Homo sapiens: one gene and its partner. The protein of the gene in region 1 interacts with the protein of each later gene in a biochemical or structural test. Each region holds a gene or a part of one and is shown in the gene's direction. Other genes may lie near its edges.

Region 1 (3,816 bases):
GATGACTCATGTGCTACTAGAGCTTGGGAAAAGCAAGGGACTCATTCTTCTAATTTTAGGTCTTGGTAAATAACTTTAACAGCTATCCACTTGTGTACATGATCTACCACGACTACCATTCAGGAAACAAGGGGTTATCTTCTGCCATTGTTGACAATTATTTTAAATTTAGATGAGATCATCATAACATGACACATAAAAATTGTTTCATCATGCATATCAAGTTTGATATGTAGCTTAAATTTATTTTGCACACACTAGAATTTGTCCTGGTTTTCTAGTACCTCAAGGCAGATATGCAAAGGTGTTTAGGAGACATACTCTCAGACAAACCATTATTATTTTAAAGGATAGAACAAAACAATCGCTAGTTAAGGAAGATGTTTTGTAATAATTAAACTTGTAATTATTTGACTTGAAATATTTAATCATTTTTTGGGAAAGAATGGATAGATTTTGTTAATGTTAGCACTCTTAAAATTAAGCAGTGGCTTTTTTCCCCGTGTCTCCCATATTCTCCTTGTGTTTGAAACATAAAACAAACACTAAACCTAAGCAAAAGTTGCTGGGTTTGTTTTCATAATTGAGGTGAGTTTTTCCCTCAACTATTACAATAAAAGAAAACTTTTTATGATTTTAATGATAATGTTTTGTGGTGGGTTAAAGACCTCCTAACAACAGGGGGTTTTTATACAACAACAAGAAGTTTTTAAATAATTGAGTTTTTAAAGTGGAAAGCAGCAGTAAATTAAACTAGAAGGATATATTTTATACCTAGAAATAAATAAAGCTCAACTTGTTTTGTAAGCCTGTTTCAAAAATATTTAATCATTTAATTTGTGCAAGTATAGAGTTCTCCTATGGCAAAACTATACCATCATCTTCTCCAATTGTGCATGGCAGCTGTACTAAGTTCTGCAAAAACAAGACATATGGATGTGTTTCATACCTTCTCAGAATTGGTATATCAAGACACATTTAAATATAAGCCCTCTGGAAATGGATTTATATACAGTCAACATAAATACCCCCTTAGAAATTGGTAATATTTTATAGCCAGGTTTAGGTTTAGTGTCAAGTATAGTGATTGCTGGTCTATCACTACTCATGAAGTGGAACCCCCTCTACTCATAAAAACCCCAATCAAACATATAGATGAATAGAACCTTGATAACATTAGAATGCCTTGTTCTCTGAAGGCTTAGAAGACAATACGTCAGGAAATATGAAGGAGAAGCTGAGGAACGAAAGAAACTTCGACAAGAGAATGGAAATGTACATGCTATAGCATAACTGAAGATAAAATTACAGGTTTGAGTTTTAAAATATATCTTTAGATCATATCCTATAATTTTGAAAAATTTAACACTATATAATCTCAAGAAAAATATGGAATGTGTTCTTAATTATATATACACTATGAACAATGGCTATGTTAAAGTATTATTCTTTGAGTATAAGATGGAATTCAATGTTGAGAATAGACTACGTGTTTAATAAGTATTATTAGGGATATAAATATAAGAGACACTGGTCCAGTTCTCAAAGAAGTTATTGTTTAGTAGATAGGAAAAAAATGTAAGAAACCAGAATACTAGGGATGTAAAATAAATGTCATGAGAAAGGAACCAATGGAGTATGAGAAGTTTCCAGTGAAAAACAGAAAGAATCCAGTAGAATTTATTTAGGGAAGAGGAAAAGATGTGTTCGGGGTGGCCTTGGAAGTGAACGTTGAAGGACTAGTGAGATTGGTTCAAGAAACTGTGAAGGGAAAGAAAGGGTTATACTGAGAAATGGAAGAGATAATTTTAGAAACTTGTGAAAAATGGCTTAATCTAAATGAGTGTTAGGGGAGATACAGTTGTGATGATAGGTTGAGCTCACATGGTGGAGAGCCACAGTTGCGGGTGCTTGCACTGATAATGTGAGGGCATGGAGACAGACAATAGGTTGAATGCTCTTTTTTTACAAAAGGAAGTAGAAAGGGAGGGGGATGTAAATTTGATAAATAGGTTGGTGAAAACTTATATTTTCTTGTAAAGAGAGAGAACTGAGCATGTTGTAGGTATAAGGTAAAAAGGCGTGAAGAGGAATATTTCGTTGATAATGAAAGTGAGCAGCTAGGGAAGAAAACTCCCAGAGGAAGAGGGAGGCAAGGAAATCAAGAACACACTTAAAGTTTGTCAGAAGAAGGAACTTTATTTCCTTAAACATTCAAGAAAGATGATGTCATTTCAGTTATTGATTGTCTAACTTCAGTAGGTTTAAGAGTTACTTGAGGGCTGGGCACAGTGGCTCAGGCCTGTAATCCCAGCACTTTGGGAGGCTGAGGTGGGCGGATCACCTGAGGTCAGGAGTGCAAGACCAGCCTGGCCAACATGGTGAAACCTTTTCTAAATATACAAAATTTTCTAAAAATACAAAAAATTAGCTGGGTGTGGTGGTGAATGTCTATAGTCCCAGCTACTTGAGAGGCTGAGGCAGTAGAATTGCTTGAACTGCAAGGCAGAGGTTGCAGTAAGCCAAGATCGCGCCATTGCACTCCAACCTGGGCAACAAGAGCGAAACTCCATCTTAAAAAAAAAAAAAAAAAAGAATTACTTGAGATGCTTGTTGAATATGCATATTCCTAAGCCCAGCCCTAAATCTACTGAATCAGAATTCTATTTTTAATGTACACTCCAGATGGTTCTGATACTTGAACAACGCTATATTTAGCATTGGTTAAGTACAGATATTTTGTTTTTAGCCTATTGCAGAATTAGCTCAATAATTCATAAAATGGGTAATTATTCATACCAATGCTAAACTCAGTATTTATTACATCAAAATTTTTAATGTATTGGCTAATTTTGGTAAAGCTAAGACCACCAGTGTGAATAAGGATGGATTTTTGGTTATTTGCCACTGAGATTTTTTAGCATAGATCCCAGAATTATTTTAGGAAAAAGAATATGCTGTGCTAGCACATAGTGGGTGCCTATTAACTGGTAGTTACTATTATTATGCCCTTGGTACTAATTTTCCTAAATTAACTATATATCATAAATATGCTGAGACAGTTAATCTTTGATTTTAATTATGTCCACTGCATAGATTTGGTTAGGAAAACTATTTCTCATGACTGCTGTTGCATTTTTATTAAGCAGAATTTGATGCAACAGATTTGAGCATATGTGGACTTCTACTGAACTAGGTGTATAATCAAAGCAAGTGTGAAAGAGGAACTCAAGCCGAAGTAAGAGTTGGTCTCTGAAAAATCTTAGCATTTCTCAAACGATGTACTAGAAAACAACTGACAGAAATTCTGATTCCTGATTATGCTTTAAAGTTTCTTAAAGCTCTGCTGGAATTGAGCTTATCTGTAACATTTTGTTTTATTTTATTATTTTATTTTATTTTATTTTCTCACAGGATATCACATTGGAGTCACTGCCAAGTCATAGCCATAAATGATGAGTCGGTCCTCTTTCCAGTGGATCATAAGACAATGGACCCTTTTTGTTATGATGGTTTTAAACTTTCAATTGTCACTTTTTATGCTATTTCTGTATATAAAGGTGCACGAAGGTAAAAAGTATTTTTTCAAGTTGTAAATAATTTATTTAATATTTAATGGAAGTGTATTTATTTTACAGCTCATTAAACTTTTTTAACCAAACAGATTGAGAGTTTGAATATTAGTTCTGATATTGCAAGACTCCAGTGTACTTTTCTCCTAACAGTTGGTTGATCATTTAAAAAGGCTTTTCTCTCTCTTTTTACTGTCTTTATGTTGATTTTTAAAACTCATTTTTTATTAGATGACATTCTTCA
Region 2 (4,273 bases), on another chromosome or scaffold:
TGGGGAGCAGTGGGGAGGCCCCCCAGGCTGGGGTGGGACTGCAGCAGTGATAGGTACTACACCCTGAGCCCAGGTCTGTTCTTGGACTGGTGGTAGAAGTATGTTGTTCTACTGTGGTAGAACGATGTCTGAGTGTCTCCTGGGATACAGGAAACTCTCCCTGGCCCCTACTTCCTCCTTGACTGCAGCCTGAACCTGAACCCCCCTCCCCAATCCACAACCTCTACCCCAGTGCTGGGCCTTAGCCCTTCGCTGGACACCTTCCCTATTCCTGATTCTCAGTCCTCCATGCCAAGAGTCTCCGACGAGCCTTTCCTGTGAAGAGCAGTGAGGCCTAGAAGAAATCGTTCATTTAAAAGCCCTTTAAAAACCTCTGGGCCCATATTAGCTCATGACCTTGACCATATCCTTCGCAGAAAATATCTTCCTCCACTGATCCCCATCTCAAGGGCTGTCTTCTCTACTCCTGGAGTGGGTGGCAGGATGGGTGGGAGGGGCCCGATGTGGAGAGCTTCCTAGGACACGGGGAGATGGTGCCCTGTGTTTGTCCCACACTTCTGAGGTTTTCTTTCCAGGACAGCCTGGTTTCCCTTCTTCGGCTTATTGTTCCATCAGATTTCAGATTTTGAGTTCTGATTTTTGGTCAGAAGAGTAAAGTTTCTGGGATTGGGGACGTGTGTGCTATGGGAACTCAGTGTGTCCCCAGCCCTTGTTTGTAAACAAGGAAGGTGAGATTGGCAGAAGGGGTTTCTCCCCAGCTCCATCCCGGGAGGCTCTGACGTGGGCATCCTCAAGTCCCCAACAACTTCTCATGGGCCCTTTCTCTCCCCTGGATTCCTAGGGACAGAGATCAGGGAAATAAAGGCAGAAGGCAGTGAGAGGGAGGCTATGCCTGCTGCTTGGATTCTCTGGGCTCACTCCCACAGTGGTAAGTCCTTCCTTCCTATGTCTCTGTTCATCTGATATCTGGTGGGTCACGCTGGATGATGAGGGTGACAAGTGGTGGTGACCTCCACCAAGGAGGCCTGGCCCCACAAGCGGGCATGCGCTCAGGGAGAAGAGGGCAGAGCCTTTGGAATTTCTTGAGAAATGGCTCTGGGGTGGAGGTGGGGGTCTGGACTAGCCAGGATGCTCCTGCAGGTGCACAGAGTCCCTTGCCTTCAACTGTGGTCCCAGCTGAGTCTCCTTGAGGTGGGAGAGGCTGAGGTTTTTGTGGTGGGAGAGGAATGATGGGTCTGGTTCAAGAATGGCAGGGAGGGCTTTGGGCTGGAGGTGAAGACTCTCCACAGATTTAACCTGCAGCCTTCAAGTTCCGTGGGTGTTGCCTCCTTCCTCCCTGAGGGGGAAGTGGTTTTTGAGTCTGAGTCACTTGAGCTCCATCTGTCTCTTCCCTTGGCTGAGGGTGGCTGTGCTATTGGAATCCAGGCCCTTATTCAAGCGTAGCCTCTGGATCCAGGTTTTGGAATGATCCTGGAGATTTCAAGAGGCCCCCTGCCCTCCCTGCCCGCTGACCCGTCTCTGTGTGCACTGCTCTGGGCCAGAGTCTGGAGACCAGCTGGGCCAGCTCAGCTCACCTCCCTGCTGCTCCTTGTTGAGACCCCATCACCCAGTTCCAGCCCAGCCCCCTCTCAGCCCTGGACTCTCTCTTTGCCCTGTCCCCGACTTTAATAATGGGACACTCCTCGATATCAGGTGATTCAGGCACTGGGGGAAAGGCTGGTGAACTGCCTGTGGAAAACCAGTTCCTAAGCTGGAAGAAGCAGAGAGAAAATCGTGACCCTTGATCTGCTCCACCATCTGCCACCAGGGCCTTTTGAGGAGGTCGTCTTCTCATCTTTCTGCCTCAGGCCTACTTTTCAACAACTCCCCAGCAGGAGAGTCTGTGGTCTCCTTTGGGGTCTTGCTGTTCTCCTTGTACCAGCAGCTCCAGAGTTTGTTGTGGGTCTCATTGTAACCTGTACTGATATAGATGGGCGCTCTTGTTAGTGGATTTCAGTCTCATCCTGGGTTCCAGTCTCTTGTTCTTTGAGGGAGGGGCCTCAGAGGTAGGCTAGTGCTGCTGGTGGTGACTTCCTGAGGAATGGGATCTTCCCCTCTCCCTCTACAGAGCTGCACACTGTGATGGAGACTCCTCTGGAGAAGGCCCTGACCACTATGGTGACCACGTTTCACAAATATTCGGGGAGAGAGGGTAGCAAACTGACCCTGAGTAGGAAGGAACTCAAGGAGCTGATCAAGAAAGAGCTGTGTCTTGGGGAGGTAGGTGATTGTTCCCTCATCCTCCACCCCAAAGTCTGAGTACTCCCTCTGGGGGACACATACCTACCCTCAGGATCCTCCAGCCTAAGCCAGGGGCAGGGTGGCCAAGGGCTACAGACAGAGACAAAGGAAGATGGTGGGGATTTCGGGCCAGCAAAACTCTAGCCCTCTGTGAAGGAGAATGGGTCAGGGTCTCACTGAGAAGGAGGAAGGGCTGAGTCTGGAGGGTTTAGAGAAGGAGATTGAGGAGCCTTCGATGGTGGGGCCAGGCTCTCCCAGCAGTGGCAGAACCTGTGCTAGGGGTCATGGGTGGTGAAGGGATGCAGGGTGTCCAGGTCCAGCTGTGTACAACTCAAGTGTAGGGACTCTGCCTGATTCTTCTCTGTGTGCACAGCATGGCCAGGGCTCTCTGATGGTGCTGGCACTCAAACTGAAAGGTTAACTTGTAAACATAGGGTAGTGAGGAGACAGAACTGGTTCTCACCAGATGGAGGTGGTGGGAGGGAGGTGACTGACAGAGGGGAAGGCCCATGAGGTTATTATAATACAATATCCCCGAGGATAAATAAATAAATAAATATATATATATATATATATATATATTTTTTTTTTTTTTTTTTTTTTTTTTTGAGAGAGTCTCGCTCTGTCACCCAGGCTGGAATGCAGTGACATGATCTTGGCTCACTGCAACCTCCGCCTCTCAGGTTCAAGCGATTCTCCTGCCTCAGCCTCTTCAGTAGCTGGGATTACAGGCACGCACCATCACGCCCAGCTAATTTTTGTATTTTTAGTAGAGATGGGGGTTTCACCATGTTGGTCAGGCTGGTCTCGAACACCTGACCTCGTGATCCATCTGCCTCGGACTCCCAAAGTGTTGGGATTACAGGCGTGAGCCACTGCGCCTGGCCAAGGATAAATATTTTTGAGACAGAGTCTCACTCTGTCACCCAGGTTAGAGTGCAGTGGTGCGATCATGGCTCACTGTAGCCTTGAACTTTCAGGCTCAAGTGATCCTCTTACCTCAGCCTCCTGAGAAGCTAGGACTACAAGCAAATACCACCACGCTTAGATAATTTTTAAAATTTTTTGTAGAGATGGGGTCTCACTATTTTACCCAGGCTGTTCTTGAACTCCTGGCCTCAAATGATCCTATCGCCTCAGCCTCCCAAAGTGCTGAAATTACAGGCATGAGCCACTGTGCCTAGTCTTATTATTTTTATAGTTAAAAAAAATCAATGCTCAAATACATCAAATAACTTGCCTAAGGACAATCCGCTAGTGGGAGGCTGAGCTGGAGTTCTGGGCCAGGCCTGTGAATCATCCTCCCTGTTTCCTTTAAAATTTAGCCTGGGTGCCTCTCCATCTATCACACCTTGAGCCCTGGTAGGCCCTCCCAGAAAGAAGGTCCACAGTGTGCCACATGGGCAGGGGACAGAAGCAGGTATGGGCGTCCCCAGGCCTGATCTCTGGCCTTCTGCCAGGCTGCCTGCATCCTGGAGGTTAATGAGGGCAGAGGGAGGGGCCACAGGTCCAGCAGGGATTAATTACAGAAGGAGAGACGCCCAGAGGAGGGCCTGGCAATAACAGGAGCCCAGGCTGGGGACTAGGATCACGTGACAGACAAGCAGTTTCCGCCTTTGTAAGTCCCAATGTCTCCTGTGAAAACCTGTAGCTGACGGCAATGATGAGGAGACATCAGGATCTGCTTGTCTATATTTTCTTCCTGTTCCACCCAAAGGACCCTGACTCCATCGTCCTAATGGAGCCAGGCTGGGACATCAGGGGACTGAACAACAGTGCACAACCAGGCTCCAGGCAGGCCTCTTGCACAGCTCTCCTAGCAGGGGAGGGATGCAGTGGCTTCACAGCCCCAGTGCACTGCTCTCATTGAGAGACATTTTGTCCGGGGTTATTCTCACCTAGTCCTTAGAATGGGGAGAGAGTCACTCAGAGACTTGGATAATGCTCAATGCCACATAATCAGCAAGGTGTTCTTTTTTTTTTTTTGAGAAGG

What was found.
Region 2: the proteins of AREG (region 1) and S100A5 interact in far-western blotting, tested with the Homo sapiens proteins (one study listed by IntAct).

What each region holds. Positions count from the first base shown.
Region 1 is NC_000004.12:74,451,345-74,455,160, forward strand, and holds the end of AREG (amphiregulin preproprotein), read left to right. Parts: intron 1-1,199; coding exon 1,200-1,293; 3' UTR 1,294-1,311; intron 1,312-3,414; 3' UTR 3,415-3,661; downstream 3,662-3,816.
Region 2 is NC_000001.11:153,538,040-153,542,312, reverse strand, and holds the start of S100A5 (protein S100-A5), read left to right. Parts: upstream 1-1,378; 5' UTR 1,379-1,692; exon of another isoform or gene 1,693-2,107; coding exon of another isoform or gene 2,108-2,121; coding exon 2,122-2,259; intron 2,260-4,273. UniProt on the Homo sapiens protein: Binds calcium, zinc and copper. One subunit can simultaneously bind 2 calcium ions or 2 copper ions plus 1 zinc ion. Calcium and copper ions compete for the same binding sites.